2 separate regions of the Homo sapiens genome follow, and region 1 is linked to region 2. The links come from fine-mapping of genetic effects on gene expression. Tissue or cell type: subcutaneous fat. Region 2 holds a variant in brackets; the other region holds the start of a gene. All regions are shown on one strand. Distances are between the middles of the regions.

The links. PIP is the estimated chance that this variant, and not a neighbour inherited with it, causes the effect.
Region 1: ZNF185 starts here. The variant in region 2 is fine-mapped to the expression of ZNF185 in subcutaneous fat (GTEx, PIP 0.92).

The regions. Positions count from the first base shown.
Region 1 is chrX:152,894,231-152,902,390 of GRCh38, reverse strand. ZNF185 (zinc finger protein 185 with LIM domain) reads right to left here and starts at 4,324. Exons shown (of 25, transcript NM_001395254.1): 1 at 4,153-4,324. RefSeq lists enhancers at 181-703, 4,572-5,072.
Region 2 is chrX:152,921,424-152,929,604 of GRCh38, reverse strand. ZNF185 (zinc finger protein 185 with LIM domain) reads right to left here. Exons shown (of 25, transcript NM_001395254.1): 11 at 7,349-7,432; 12 at 6,796-6,885; 13 at 944-1,030. LOC124905237 (a long non-coding RNA gene) reads left to right here and starts at 2,447. Exons shown (of 2, transcript XR_007068368.1): 1 at 2,447-2,686; 2 at 2,906-4,256. The variant C/T (reference allele first, on the strand shown) is at 4,392.

The DNA.
Region 1 (8,160 bases), 27 kb after region 2:
CCACATCAAGCTCTCTGGGAAACTGACCTAGTCATCACAAAGTGGCGTGCTGAGCCAAAGATCACAGGGACTAGACCAAGGGGCCCGGACTGGGTGCCCGAGCTGGGCCTACAGATGGGGCCAAGGCCAGGGACCACCGCCAGCAACCACCAGCAGCCTAGGGCTTGCCCACTGGCCCCAGAGGCTATGTCTCCTCTCTGACCCAGGGCGTGGCTTCAGAGCTCTGCCGCCATCTCAGCAGCAGCAGCCCCAAGGGCAGCTCTGCGGGAAGAGGGATGGCTCAGCGGGCGTTAATGAGTGGGTGAGGAATTGCTCTCTTGGCTGGCCTGGACCCACCTCCCTGCTCCAGGCAGGCACCCTCCCAGTTCCTAGCTCCCTTTTGAGGTGAGAAATGAGCACACTCCCAACAGGAAAAGCCTAGACCGTGTTTCTGAAAGTGGCCTCTGGGACCCTTCGGCAGTCAAATTCCCTGGGAGACACGCTTAAGCTGCAGATTCCTTCCTGCATTCCACCTCCGACATTGAGAGTGATACCCACAGGGCCTCTTGTCTTTTCCTTTTCCAGTCTCTTCTCCACTCAGACCTGTCCCTCCCACTTTGCTGTCAGTTCTCAGTCATTTCTGTGCCCCAGCGCCCAACACAGAAAGTGATCAAGAAAACACCTGCCAAATGCATCAATATGTGTCCCTGAGAGAAGTTAATCTGGCTCAGTTTCTAATCAATGGCACTTGAGCAAGTCCCTCTCTGTGCCTCAGTTTCCCTTTGGAAAAATGAACTGACAACAGCCCTGCCCACCCTCTGACCCATCCAAAGGCTACAAGTGAAGAAAGCTAATGAGAAATGTGGCAAAATGTTAATAGCGGGAATTCAGATAAGGCTTCAGGAGTTCTCTGCACGATTCGTACAACTTTTCTATGAGTTTTAAATCAATTCAAGGTAAAAAAAAAAAAAATTAAAGATAAAAAGTAACAACAGTGCTGGCATGGTGGCACTCGCCTGTAGTGCCAGCTACTCGGGAGGCTGAGGCACGAGGATCGCTTGAGCCCAGGAGTTGGAGGCTGCGGTGTGCTATGATCATGCCTGTGACTAGCCACTGTACACCAGCCTGGGTGACAAGGCGAGACCCCAGCTCTAACAAAAAAAAAAAAAAAAAGTGAAAACAAAAAAGAAAGCGAGTCAGACTTTAGTAGGCATGAGAAATCACCCTAAGAATTAAGTGTTCTTTAGTGAGTCACTTTAAATGTGGGTAGATACTGTTTGCATCATCAGCAGTAATTTCTAAACTGTTTTCCTCAGGTAGGGGCCCACATCCCAGTCAGCATCTCTCTCTCCACCTAGTCCCACTTCACTCCTTGCCACCACAGCCCTGAAGGAGGGCACCATAGTCCTGGCTCAGCTACCTTCCGTGACAGAGCACCTCTGTGCCAGGAACCTAGCACTTGCAGGCACCCAGTGCAGCAGGTGCTCCTGGCTTTAGCCACCCTTCAGTACTGGTGAGAAAACAGAGGCCTCAAGGGGTTGCATGAAGGGCCGAACTTTGCACAACTGGATGGTGGCTGAGCTGGGGTTTGAACCCAGGCTGACCTCTGAGCCATTCTCTTAACCACTAGGCTATGAAGGTGCCACCCTCACCTGCCACACACCTGACCAGGTGTGGGACAGTTCAGCCCCTCCTCCTCTTCCCGGCCTTTGGAAGCAATGATGGCAACCTCTCCTGAGCATCTCTCAGGGACTGGTCCCCTGATGGCACTGCCCTTGTCTTGGCATCAGCCGGTTCACTATGGGCACAGTGGTAACGAATGCAAAGTCCCTGGACTGACCCTAAACATGAGAGCCCAAAGGCCCGGACTGCAAGGGGTTGCCGCACTGGAGAGCAGCTCTCCTCTCTGGCACTGGTCCTGTCCCATGCCGCCAGGGACTGGCAGTGGGGGCAGCCTCAGGGCTCAGCAACAGAAGGAAAGCTTGTGTTACATGTGACCTGGCACCTTATAAGTTGTGGCTTGAAGCAAAACCCGCACCAAAGGGGGCAGTCACCTGTGGAAGCTTGAGTAGGGAAGGAGGAAGGCAGGCTTCTGGCTTCCAGAATGCACCGAGCCAGAATTGGGGGAGTTTGCTTGGCATGCAACTGAAGACAGTTCAGGGAACAAGTGCCGATGCCTATCGTGGCCAGGTCCTGGGCCCAGTGCTAGGGACCCAGAGTCCCTGCCCTGCCAGATCTCAGGAGGCCTTGGGGACACTGGGCAGGAAGACAAGGAGCACAAGTCAGGCTGAGGGAGGCTGAGCTGAGGCGCTGGCTGCCCCTGGCATCACTGGCCTCACGTGGGAAAGGCTTTTTCTGGAGTCTGGACTTGAGCTGAGCAGGAAGTGAGGTGGACAAGCACTGCTGCCATTTGGATTCAGATGGCAACTTCTTACTGACAGATGGCCTCTCTGTCACTCCTCAGGGCAAGGCATGGAGCTGATTTCTCTGTGGGCCCCCATATGCAGGAGCTCAGCAAGAAGTGGTTTATGATCTTTCAGGAGTAACGGGGAGGTTAGACTCCAGCAGCTCCAAAGGACGTGCGGGCCTTGACCTGGTGGCTGCCGAGCTCCTCCTCCTGCTTCCAAGCCCTTCGCCTCCAGGAAGCCTTCCCTGATCTTCCCAGCCAGGGGTGCCTCGCTGCTCCAGGACTGAGGAACCCCTAATGTTTTCATGCTACTCGGAGCTGCAACATCCTAAGTGGTCCTGGGCCACCTCTGTTGCTTGAGTCATGAGTGTCCAGAGGATGGAAATGAACAGATCTTGAGCACCTGCTGCGTGTCTGGCCCTGCACTGAGTGCCTTCCATCAGCTCCACACGGCTGAATGCACAGCATCCAGCCAGGGGCTGGGAATTGCTGGAAGGAGGGGCAGGTGAGAGGGATCTGTTCCTTCCCATCCTGAAGTGGCCTGGGAGCGATGAGGGGAACAGCGGAGGCACCAAGGCCTGCCAGAAGGCTGGCCCCTCATCTGTGCATCTGTGTCTTGGCCACTTGCTGGCCTCTGAGCTGCCCCTTGTTTTTCAGATGAGGAGCGGAGGCCCTGGGAAGGCAGGACCTCTGCAGCTCTGTTCAGGCCTATCAACCTGTGCACCCCTGCCTCCCGCCCCCAGCCAGGTACGACAGCCAGAAGTCTGAAGGGCCATGAGACCAAGGCAGGACTTAGTCCAGGTACTGAAGCCTCAAGCACTGCTGGATGGGGTGTGAGAGGCCCTCTCTCGGGGCTCACAGCTTTGGGGCCTCCCATGATGCCAAGGCTTCGTGCCGACGGCTCAGCAAGAACACAACTCCTACCATGCCTCAGATGTCCCAAAGCCGGGACACACCCACCACCTACTTTATCTGAGTCCCCAGCAGCCCTGGGTGGGAGGCAGCTTGACGTGTCACCCCCTTAAACCGACAGAGTACCCAGGTGTCCCCAGCTCAGAAGTGGCAGATCAGGCAGGAGCACCTGAGCTTTCGGCCTTTTTGTAAGGCAAGGTATCCCTCTGCCTTTCCAAAGAGGACAGACTCTTGGCTCCCTCTGCCCCCATCAAAACAATCCAGCCACAGAGCTGGTGCAGTGCCGATCCTGTCGATAACACCCAGTGACACCTGATTCGGCGCCTTCTGTCTGAGTGTGAGCAGCCACCATCCTCATGGCCCTCCCCAAGATTGCCCTGTACCCAGCACATGCACCTCACAGGCCCCAGGGCGATTGAGGGGATCCTCTGGGTGAGCCAGCCTCTGGGTCTCAGTTTCCTCATCTATAAAATGGGCACAGGGGGACGGAGGGATATGAGATTCCCTGATTCTTAAAGGCCTGCAGTCAACTCTCAGAGCATCCTGGCCCCTCGCCGTTTACTAACAATTAAACCGTGTCTTTCCTAAAGGGCAAGACAGAGGGATCAGGCTGGCAAGGGGGACACTTGCCTCTGTAGGGGACGCTGGCCTCCTCTGCCTGTCAGTCTTTTCACTCACAGCGAAAACCAGAAATCCACTGACTCCCGGGGGGAACCCGAAGAGAGATGCTTGGAGCTGGTAAGGGTTATGGATGGGGAAACTGAGGCCCTGACTTGTCCCCAGCTGGGCACGGACTGGGTGCCCCCCACTGCCTCCAAGCAGGGCCGCATCCAATGGCGACTCGACAGCCCTACCTGGCACCGGTGCCCGGCTCGTGGGGCGGGTGGAGGGTCGGGCAGTCGCAGGGCGCGGGCTCCCTCGGGTGGACGGCGCCCGGCCGGGCCGGGCCGGGCCGGGGAGGCAGGCGCGGGGCGCGGGGCGCGGTGCACAGCGGGGAGCGCGCAGGGAGGCGAGGAGGCGCGGACTGGGCTCCGCCCGCAGGAGAACAAACAGGTTTTCTCCGGCCGCCCGGAGCCTCGCCCCTCGCCCCTCCCCTCGGCCGGCCCCTTCCTCTGCCCCTCCTGGGGTAGGTAGAGGCGCCTGGCACATTCCGCACATTCTCCCGCCAGCGTCCTCCGCCCGCCCGCCCCTTCTCGGCCCCGCCCCGCGGGGCTGCTGGAGAAATCAAGTCTGGGGCTCCCCTTGTCGAGCACGGGGCGAGCTCCAGAAGGCTCTGCCGTGATGGAAAACTTCCAGGCAAATTCCTCCGGGCCCGTGGCCCCCAGGCCGGGAAGCCTCCGCCACGTGAAGGGCCCCCGCTCCTAGTTGCGCGATCTGGCCCCGGCACAGGGCCAACGACTTCCACAGATGCTGTCGGGTTAATTCAGTCGAGAACTACCGTTCCTAGATCCATTTTACAGATGGAGATCCCAGACAGGGGCGGGGAGGGGGGCGGGGGGCTGGCGGCTGAGATCATCCAGGAAGTCCTGCAGGCAGGAAAGGAGGAGAAGAGTGAGGGAGCCGCTCATCGTGGAAGGCCATCCTGGGACGGACCCGGGGCTCACAAGGCACAGCAAACGGGGCTATCTCCCAGGCTGGGCGACGAGATACAGCCAGACTCCCAGAGCCAATGCGGTTTGATGTACCTGTGTCACGCGTTGGTGCTCACCGAGTGCTTTATTGTGTGCAAGGCCCTGGGCTGGGGCTAAGGATGGAGAGAGCATGGAGGAAAGACCCCTCACCCCACGGCCTCCCAAACAGGGAGACAATTAAGCCAGCCCAAGAAATGGCATGGACTTGGCCAGGAGTTGGCCTACCAGGGTGGTAGGCTCAAAAGAATGGACCAGCTGCTTCTCCTTCATCAAGGCCTGCCAATGTGGTGTTTCCATGGCCCTCCAGTCCACCCACTTCTCCCTGTGCCTGCTGCCACCACCCTAGTCCAGACCTGGCCCCGAAGACCAGCCTCCTTGCTGGTGTCCCCCTGCCTCTGGTCTTGCCTTCCTTTCCCTCAGTCTCTACACGGAGGTCAGGTTAAAAGTTCACGTGTGTCAATATGATCAGGTGCTCTCCTGCTTGCAACTCCTCCATGGCTTCCCATTGCTCTCAGGGTAAAAGCCAGACTCCTTGAGACGACCTATCCCTGCAGGTCCAGCCACTCTTCCCTTTGTTCAATACATTACAGCCACACTGGCCTTTTTCCATTGCCTTCTGAATACATCACATGGCGCTCACCTTGGGGTGTTTGCTCCTGCTCCTCGGACTCCCTAAAATGCTCTTCATCCCCGTCGGGCTAGTGAGCTCTTAGTCATTCTTCAAGCCTCCACCCAGTGTCCGGAAAGCCTCCCCTGCCTGCCACCCAGTCGAGCTGATCACTTCCTTCTGTGCACCCCTTAGTTCCCTCAGATGACATCAATCCAGCATAGTGGCTGTCACCCTCTATTGTTCTAGATCCTGAGCTCTGGGAGGGCAGGGCCCCTTCTGATTCATCACTGGGTCACGGAGACCAGCACAGGGCATCCGAAGAATTTGCAGAAGGAAGTGATGGATGGGTGAGTGAGGCTGTGGAAGCTGTCCTCATCCTTTTCTTCTTGGGGTTCATGAGATAGGGAGAAGGCGACCCTGTGTGTGCTTAGGGGGTTGTATATAAAGTCACTTCTGTTCATGTCCGTCTCTTGCCAACAAGCATTTTTCTGCTTCCAATATTGTATGCCCCTGTCTGGTGGCCAGCAACTAACACCTCCCCTCCTCCACTGTGGCTACTGGTGGCCATGGATTTGGCTTGGCATCTTACCTCCTAAACATGTTTACTGTATGACTTAGGCTGTGTCATACTCTTTGTCTGGGTCCCAGTCCTCTTCAAGAGCCCCTAGTTTGAAAGGGTAGAAGGTAGAAGACATCATGATGGGTGAGATGTAGGGCAAGGAAGAGGGAAAAGGCAAACTTGTTCAAGAGCCCTGAGTCAGGGGTGGGGGGCCCAGCTGGAGAGCATGAGCAAATGTGGTGTCCAACGGCACGGCCAGCAAGTGAGGACTGCCCCAGGCTGGGCCGCCCCAGGGCCTCAAGCTCTTCCCATGTCCCAGGTGACTCAGTCTCTGCCCAGGCCCGATCTGTCACGACTGCTCCAGCCAAAGAGATCAGCCTTCCCTGAACCCCTCCCTCCCTGCCAGGCTGCCAGGCCCTGCAGCTGATCTTGCCTGCAAACGGGTTTGACTTGAATGGTAACTGCCCTGCCCTGCCCTGCCCACCTGTCCATTGCCCCAACAGTCTTCCACTTCCACGCCTGCCAGGGCACCTCTAGTCACCTCAGCCAGGCTTCAGGCACCTGCTGGCTTCTTCAGCCTCTTCAAGCACCAGACATGCCCAAATGACATGTACCCAGATAGACCAAGTGCTCAAATACCACCAGGACGCTGCACAAGATGCTCCCTTTGTTTGGAATGACATTTCCTCCCCAGGGACACCAGGTGGCCTCCACTTTCTCTCAGCAGTAACATTATCTCCTTCATGAACCTTCCCTTAGACCTCCCTCAAGTTCTAGGCCAAGGCTGTGGTGGCTGCTGCCTGCCTCCAGGCTGGGCTCTGTCCCTACCTGGCCTGAGCTTGGCCCTATCCTTTCCTATTCACATCTCTTGCACTTTTCCACCCATCCGCAGCTCCAAGACAGGCCAGCTCCCACCCCCTGGCTCTGGCAGAGTTCTCCTGAAGTCCCTCCAGCTTAGGCAGCAGTGCCACCTCCAGGGGACTGGACAGTCTCTTCCCACCAACAAGCAGGCCCTCAGCAAGGCTCTAAGTGAGAGGTAGGGGCTTCAGGGTGGGGCCAGGCTGGGCTGTCTGGGCAGGCAAGAGGCTGAAAGGTAGAGGCAGGGAGTAGCAGGTGGTGAGCCCTGTGCTGGAGAAGCCATAGCTCACAAGCAGGCCGTGGAGGCAGCGTCTCTGGGAGGCTGCATCTAAGCAATGAGATGGGTAGCACGGCAGGTGGCTGCTGGGAAAGAACTGGCCAGCAGCACTCCTCAGCTCCAGGGGAGGCCCCATTCTGATCTCCAGGGCTGGGAAGAGAACTCAAGCAAGGTGATCTAGCCCCAGAGTTCCCAGGCTAGGAGGTGGGCACAGTGGCTCACGCCTGTAATCCCAGCATTTTGGGAGGCCAAGGAGAGAAGACCGCTTGAGCTCAGGAGTTCAAGACCAGCCTGAGCGATATGGTGAGACCCCGTCTCTACAAAAAATACAGAAAACAAAAAGAGTTACCAGGCTAGAGGGGGAGAAAGAGGGGTTGGGCCCTGAAAGCTGTCAGGCCGCAAAGCTCCCCCAGGCAGTGTCCTCAGCTAGAGGGGACTGAAGACAGGCAGGCAACCTCAACACTTCAGTTGTACAAATGGGAAAACAGAGGCCCACAGAGGGACAAGATGTTGCCAGGATTACACAGCTAGTCTGAGGCAGAGCTGGGCTTAGAACCTGGGGTTCCAGCTGCTCTGGATGGAGCCCCTGCCCAGCTGGAGAGAAGCTGGGGTGCTCAGGTTCATGTGCGGGGAGGGCTGGGCTCCTGCTTGATCCCTAATCCCCTCCTTCCCGGGGCCCGCCCTGCCACCTCATCCTCTTAAGCTCTTCAACCGGTTTACACTTGCTGGGTGACTCTGCTGACTCCAAGCAGGGTGGATGCCCTGGAGGCAGGGGTCCCCAGGTGTGATTGCAGGTAGGATGGGTCCTTTGAGCCCCGAACCCGTGAGGCCAGGCCCTTGTGTTTGTAACCAGCTCTCCTGCTAGGAGCTGGTCCAGCCTCTCAGCATGTGGAGTGGCTGCTCCTCTCCCCCTGTTCTCAGCCTGCA
Region 2 (8,181 bases):
GTGCCTTGGGGGCAGAATTAAAGTGGGAGGAGCCAAGGAGGAGGGTAAAGGGACCTAGAGATCGCTCAGGACTCATCTTGGATGTCAATTCCTCCAGGAAGCCCTCCCCAAGCACTCCCACCCACCACACTGTTGAGAGGCCTCTGCTCGAAGTTCCTGCCACCCCAGGGATTAAGGGATGACCTTCAGTGTACACTCCCGCTTCTCTCCCCAGTCCCTGGCCTTCACAAGGTAGGGGCCCAGTCTCCCTGCTCGGATCTCTCCTAGCCTCCACCCCAGCCCCCGAATCCTGCCTGCATGTCACCTGGCTGTCTGACCCCCACCCCAGGGCAGAGGCTGAGCCCCTCGTGCTCCCTGCTGGTTGTGGCCTCCTTGACCCACCCCTCCCCAGCACAGAGCCTAGTGGCATGGAGAGCTGTGGACTCTGACCCAGTGACCCCACTCTATTCCCAGTGGCCCTCTCACACAGGCAGGGCAATGGCCTCAGTGGCCTTCACGGGCTCCTTAGACCCAATCCTCCTCCCACCCCCACCAACATCCCCAGCACGGCTGACTGGTCCCATCTTCAGCAATTGGCAGGGTTGAGCTGTCACTTCCCAGGGGCTCCTGGCACACAGCATCTCTGGCTGACCTCATTCATGCTCATGTCGGCGTCTGCCTCCCCCACCAGGCAGATGGCAATTCCAGCCAGGGGGTCCTGTTCACTACTGTGTCCCAGGGTCGGGCCTGTGCCCTTACACAGACTAAGCGCTTGCTCCATAATGGTTTTCTGAGTGAAAGAATGAGATGGGGCAGAAAACCCAGGTCGACCATGCCTCCCATCAACCTGTTGGCCCTACAGTGGCAGAGCCGGCCCTAGGCCTCATCATTTGCCACCTGAGGCTGCTGCTTCCATCTCTAGAATGGTGTCCAGGGAGCCAGGACAGCAGCAGGACCCCCATACCTCATGCCTTCCACGTCTGGGGCCACCAGGCGGAGTCCTGCCCTGGGTGTCAGGATCTGCAGGCGGACAATTTCCTCACCTCTTGAGCTGCGGGCCAAAGGAGAGACCCAGTGGGTTGCAGGTGAGAAAAGTCTCCCCCTTCTTGGGCTGGTGAGTGCGGTGGGCCGCCCAGACCCACTGCCCCCTTTTGATGTGCTCTCATCTCCTCCTTGGCCTTGAGCCTTGTTGGTGCTGCAGCTGAGCTCGGGCCACTGACCTGTAGGCCCCTTCCCCGGTCTCCCACCCCTGACCTGAGCCCAGCCCTCCCTCAGGCACAGCAAGGGCCCTTCTGGGTAGAAATGAAACCTCCCAACCCGTGCTTCTACCAACCATTTGCAGGGGCAACCGCAGCCTGTGACCCCACCAGGGTATCCAAAGTGGCCATTTGTGAGGCCAGGGGTAGTTCTGCATTCATGGACTGGTGGGGACTGAGGGGTACGAGAGACTGAGAAAACCCACAGACCAAATATGGAATGAAAACCAGTGGGAGGGGATGTCGCAGACTCGGGGATGAGGACAAAGGGCCCCTTTGAGCTTTCCTCTTGCCAGCCACGCTCAGAGCCCTCCCCCAGATGACCACAGGCCACCCCGGACACACATCCCTCCAAGTCTGATGCATTCTCTGGCCGTACTGCAAGGCATGACGCCCAGCAGGCTTGGCCATGGTGTGGCCAGGGCCAGAGAGAATATAGAGCTCCCAGGCTTTCTGGGGGTGGACCCTTCACCCCAAACCAGACCTCCTTAGGTCCATGGAGCAAAGCCTAATTCCAAGCCACATTGCAGTCACTCCTGCCTTTGTCCCTGGGCCCTGGAAGTGCAGACAAGCCTGAGCCCCAGGCCTGCCCTGGTGAAGCTCTGGGCCCAGCAGGGTCAGGCAGGGGCAGAGAGGCATGGAAACTGACCTTGCTGTGCTGCAGGGCCCAGAACAGGTTTAGCCATGGGAGCAGTGGACAAGCTTCATGGAGGCATAGCCCGACCCAGGCCAGCTGAAGGGAGATCGGGGGAGGAGGAGGAGGTAGAGGCTGGCAGGGGTCCTGAATGTACAGACTAGATCTGGTATGGCAAAGGGAAGATGCAGGATGGGCTTGAAGTGGAGGTGGGGGGTTTATAGGTTCAGACTGGCACTTTAAAGAGGCCACTCAGGGGTCCCAGGAGGGGTAGGGGATGGAGTGGCCAAGGTGAAAGCAAGGAATGAGCCATGGAGGGCTGGGTCAGCGGGCTGCTCATCTCTGTCCCTCCACTTCCACCCTGGCCAGGGCCTGGAGTGCTCAAAGTGACCAGAGGGAAATGGAAGGGCTACCAAGGACAAGGCCTCTCCCATCATGAAAGCCAGGAGGGGCCCTAGACACACAGACAGCTCTGACTTCTCCCCATCTCCTCTCGTGATAACGACGATGACATCGTTGTTGAGGATGATGTCATTTATGATGACAGTATAAAACCCCTGGCTGCCTCATTTAAATCAGGTGGTGCCAGGGAACAGGGATGTCACAGGCAAGCACAACATATTTTCTCACTGGCGTTTCTGGCTCTGTCACAGAGGAAATGGGAACAAAGTGTCACCCCAGCCTGCTCCAGTGACTGATGTCAGACTAGGGCAATGTGGGCAGACACAGAGGGAAGACGGCTGCGCGAAGACAGAGGCCGAGATGGGAGTGAGGCGGGCGCAAGCCAGGAAACACCAAGGATTGCAGGCAACAAAAGGTAAGAGAAAGGTATGGAACAGATTTTCCCCCAGAGCCTTTGGAGGGAGCATGGCCCTTCCGACACCTTGATCTCAGACTTCCAGCCTCCAGAATTGTGAGAGGATAAATGCGTGTGGTTTTAAGCCACTCAGTTTCTGGTACCTTGTTACAGCAGCTCCAGTAAACTAATACAAGGGTCTCTCCTCCCCCACAACCCGCTACCCCACCATCTCCCCAGACTCTCAACCACAGACAGCTCCAGTCCAAGCTGAAGTCCAGGACCACGCTGGAAGGCTGCACACCCTTGGAAGGCACCCAAGGAAGAGAGGCAGGCATCTGCTGAAGCCTGAAGCCCAAAACTGATCACAGCCACCTGTGGGAATGCGACCAACTGTGGCCTGTGCCAAACAGTGTGTGACTCATTCTGCCAAAGAGCGAGGAGGCGGGGATGTGGGGCGAGGGGATACCTCCTTTTCACTGCCTTTGGCCACATTTCCCTCAAATGCCAGCAGGTGGAGATATTGATCTCTTCCTGTATTTGAATAAGGGCCCTGCAGCTCAGCACGCCTATGACTGGGAGCCCCCGAGGATACCAGCACCCAGGCACTGTGGTAAGTACTTCAGGTGCACGATCTCATTTAGCATTTGGGACAGCCTTGGGAAGTAGCTATTACTGCTCTCCCTATTTTATCCACGGGGAAACTGATGCATGGAGAGATGAAGAGACTTGCTCAAGGTCACACAGTCAGTCTGATGCAAAGCCAGGGTTTTGTCCTGTGCCAGAAGCTGTGCTCCTACTCCCTGCTCCCCAGACGCTCTGCCAGGCAGCATGCTGGGCAGAGCCTAGGACCGGGACCCAGGAGGCCATGCCCTGGTCAGGTGAGGCAAGCTTGACCAGTGCTTCGGGTAAAGCAGCCAGGCCTGGGGGCCGAGAAGGGGTGCATGTGTAGAACCAGTTTCTCCAAGAGAGGGTCCCTAAACTGGGTTCAGGTTGCAAGGGGGGCAAGAGTTATGAGGAGCTGACCTTTGCACTGTAGCTAAGGGAAACAGGGCAGGGCAGGGGGTGGGGAGAGGGTAGCCTCGATAGGTCTGTGCCTGGGGACAAGGCTGTGACATTCTCCTCTTCCACTCTGCCACAAACCAGCCTTTTCTGAAGTGCTGCAGGACCCTGAGTTTGATTGAGTCATTGTTCCTCACGGGCTGGGCTTCTCAGACACCAGGCAGATAGGAGCTGGGCCTGGGAGTACTGATGGTGGCTGCTTGGTCCAGTGCAGCACCTAACGTGGTAGGGTCAGAGAAGACGGCCCTCCAGGGTCAGGATCAGCCAGCAGCTTTCCTGGAAGCTGCCTGGGTGAGCTCCAAATATTGAGTGACCAGAATTGGAGGAAAGAACTATCAGAAGCATCAAGCTGAGCCTCCTGTTGGGAGCTTGCCCCGGACCCTGAATCTCTAGCCTTTATTTGTTATGGCAACCTGAGCAAACTTAAAAAGCCACCTTGCAATGACAACCATATGATGGGGATTAAACATCGAAAGGAATTTTGTGGAATAAATGTCAAAGTGCCTTTTAAATCTATAATACAGCACAATCTAATTCTCCTCCATTCTTTCTCTCTTTTTTTTCTTGTTTTAGAGACAGGGTCTTGCTCTGTCACCCAGGCTAGAGTGTAAGGGTGCGGTCACAGCTCATTGCAGCCTCAAACTCCTGGGCTCAGGCAGTCCTC[C/T]CACCTCAGCCTCCCAAGTAGCTGGGACTACAGGTGTACATCAATGCTCCCAACTAATTTTTAATTTTTATTTTTTATTTTTTTGTAGAGATGGGGTCTTGCTATGTTACCTAGGTTGGTCTCAAACTCCTGGCTTCAAGCCATCCTCCTGCCTTGGCCTCCCAAAGTGCTGGGATTACGGGCATGAGCCACCATGCCCAGCCTCCTATATTATCTTCTAAAAGGCACCTGAGGCCAAGCGCGGTGGCTCACGCCTGTAATCCCAGCACTTTGGGAGCCTGAGGTGGGCAGATCACAAGGTCAGCAGTTTGAGACCAGCCTGGCCAATATGGTGAAACCCGTCTCTACTAAAAATACAAAAATTAGCCGGGCGTGGTCGCGTGCACCTGTAATCCCAGCTACTCGGGAGGCTGAGGCAGAAGAATCGCTTGAACCCGGGAGGCGGAGGCTGCGGTGAGCCGAGATCACACCACTGTACTCGACAGAGCCTGGGCGACAGAGCGAGACTCCATCTCAAAAACAAACAAAACAAACAAACGAACAAACAGAAAGGCACCTGAAACCATTTATTGCCTTTCTTTAAAAGAGAAATAAGGAGAAATGAGAACTGTATACTGTTATGGGCTGACTTGTGCCACCCAAAATTCATATGTTGAGGTCTTAACTCCCCCATGACCTCAGAATGTTACTGCATTTGGAGATGGGGCCTTTAAAGAAGTGACTAAGTTAAAATACAGTTGTTAGGGTGGGCCCTAATCCAGTTGGACCAATGTCCTTATAAGAAGTGATTAGGGTCTGGGCGCGGTGGCTCATGCCTGCAATCCCAGCACTTTGGGAGGCTAAGGCAGGAGGATCATTTGAGTCCTAGAGTTCCAGACCAGCCTGGGCAACATGGTGAAACCCTGTCTCTACAAAAATTTAAAAAAAAAAAACTAGCTGGGTATGGTGGCCTGTGACTGTAGCCCCAGCTACTCAGGAGGCTAAGGCTGGAGGCTCTCTTGAGCCTGGAAGGTCGAGGCTGCAGTGAGTGGTGACTGTGCCACTGCACTCCAGCCTGGGCGACGGAGTGAGACTCTGTCTCAAAAAAACAGAAGTGATTAGGACGCAGGCACACACAGACAGGGATGAGCATATAAGGGCCCAGGGAGAAGATGGAGTCTACCAGCCAAGGAGAGAGACTCAAGAGGAACCAACCTTGCCGTCACCTTGATCTCACACTTCTAGCCTCCAGAAGTGGGAGATGATACGTTTCTGTGGTTTAAGCGCCCCAGGGTGTGGTACAATACTTTGTTGTGGCAGCCTTTGCCCCCATATCCCTCAATTGCCAAGTCCCCTAGATCAGGGGTCCCCAACCCCAGCCTGAGGATCAGTACCAGTCTGTGGTCTGCTGGGAATCAGGCTGCACAGTAGGAGGTAAGCTAGAGATCATTACTGCCTTAGCTCCGCCTCCTGTCAGATCAGCAGATTCTCATGAGAGCGCGAACCGTATTGTGAACTGCACATGTGAGAGATCTAGATTGTGCGCTCCTTATGAGAATCCGGTGCTTGATGATCTAAGGTGGAACAGTTTCATCCTGAAACCATCCCCTGCTCCGTCCCGTGGAAAAAGTGTCTTTCACGAAACCAATCCCTGGTGCCAAAAAGACTGGGGAGCTCTGCCCTAGATATTGCCTTGTAAAGAATTCTCAAATCTTCCTTTCCACATCTTCTATGGACCAAAGTTCTTATGGGGAGAGTCAGACAACCAGAGAAGATCAAGAGAGGGAGAGAGTGAAAAGGAGAAGCACCCTGGCAGTCTGCTGCCTGGGGCCATGGAGGGAGCTGGCCTCATGCTCCTGGCTCCCTCTGCCAGCATTTCTGTCTCCCTCCCAGACTGAGGAAGTAACCCTGAGGACAGTGGTCACCTGTCTATAAATGGCTGTGGAGCTCAAATTGGGGGATTGCTATGGTATTAGGAGAGCCTGAACAGCCCTTGGGGGCCTGGGAAGTGACCGGTAGGGACAGGCCCTCTCCCCTTCTGGATGCAGGGGTCTTCCAAGGGTGCTACAGAGATGCAGCTCTTAGGAGACCTAGATTTGAGCAAAGGTCTCAATCCAGGCAGGCACTTTAAACAGCAGCAACAGCAGGTGGTGGCTCTCCCTGCAGGACTTAGCACCATTCTGCACAAAGTACAAGAAGGTATTAGTTGTCCACAGACAAGAGAGCACCATTATCTGCCCAGATTCTCAGGGATCAGAAATCAAGACAAATCACGGCCCTTCCTGGAGTGAGATCACCAGTGCTCAGCCTGTCCTTGCCCCATCACCCCACTGCCAGACCCTCCCCAGCTGGCAGAACCAGCCAGCCAGGCTGGCGGGAAGCCATCACACCCACTCACAAGCCAGAGTCAGCTCTCGGCACCCACCTGAGCTCCTGGCTCCCAGCGGGGCTAGGCATACTTGGCAGGCACTCGATCCAAATTGCCCGAGACGCTTTGGTCCTGCCTCCATCCGCACTGGCAAAGAAGGTGGCTGTGAGAGGCTCTGGAGATGTCAGAGCCTCCTCCCTGGGCATGCTGAATGTGGCTAACTTATTGGAGTGCAAGGAGCAAGTCTGACAATGGCATGCTACTGCCATGGTGGCTGGCCCTCTCAAACCCCAAGGATGGTACTTTTTCTTGGGGTGTTCAAGTTGCCACCAGGCTCAGTGGTGCAAGGGTTAAGGTGACACAGATACGTACTCATCAGACCAGAGCCAGGTGCTCTCTCCCGGGGGGCTGGACTGTTTTGCTCCTTTCAGCCCTGGGACATCCAGCCAGATGGGCTCTTACTGATTTCTTTGTCCCGTCTTGTCACTGGGCACATGGGGACACTGATCTCGAAGCCCAGCATGGAGGTGCCCTGACTGAGGTTCCTCAGTGACTGAGTGGCAGGTATGGCAGCCACCAGCCCCAGGCAGAGATGAGCGCAATGGATTACCTGTTTGAGCCAGGAGTGGATCTTGCCAGAGCAGGTGGGTCCTGGCTCTTCTCAGAAGGCCCGTCCTCTTCCACCACCTCCACCCTTTGAGCAAGAAGAGAAACAGCGCTCGTGGTCTTCTTGGCTGCCCTAGAGCTTGGAGGCCTCAAAGAACATGCTTCCAGTGGCGTCTAACTGACCCAACCCTTCAGGATCACGGCCAAGAGGTGGCCCAGGCTGGGGGTTCAGTGACTCCAGCTCAGGATAAGGACAGCATACTGGGTTGAATAGTGTCCCCCCAAAATTCATGTCCCCTGGAACCTGTGACTGTAACCTTATTTGGAAATAGGGTCTTTGCAGATGTAATCAGGTAAGATGAGGTCATACTGGAGTAGGATGGGTCCTAAATCCAATGACCGCTGTCCTTGTAAGAAGAGGGAAATCTGGACACAGACACACAGAGAAGAGAAGGCCATGTGAAGACAGACGCACAGACTGGAGTGATGCAGGTACAAGCCGAGGAACACCAAGGATCACCAACCACCAGCAGAAGCCAGGAGAGTGGCCTGGGATGGTTTCTCCCTCAAAGCCTCCAGAAGGAACCCACCCTGCTAACACCTTGATCTAGACTTCTGGTCTCCAGAACCGGGAGAGAATCCCTTTCTGATGTTTTAAGCCACTCAGTTTTTGGTACTGCGTTACAGAAACCACAGGAACCAAATGCAGCCAGGAAGACCCCCCCACCGCCCCCCGTTCTCTGTCACTTCCTTTGTGCTGCCACCATCCCTGCTCTCTGTATTCCTGCCAACTTCCTGGTCTTCCAACACAGCAAGCTAGTCCCACCCCGGGCCTGT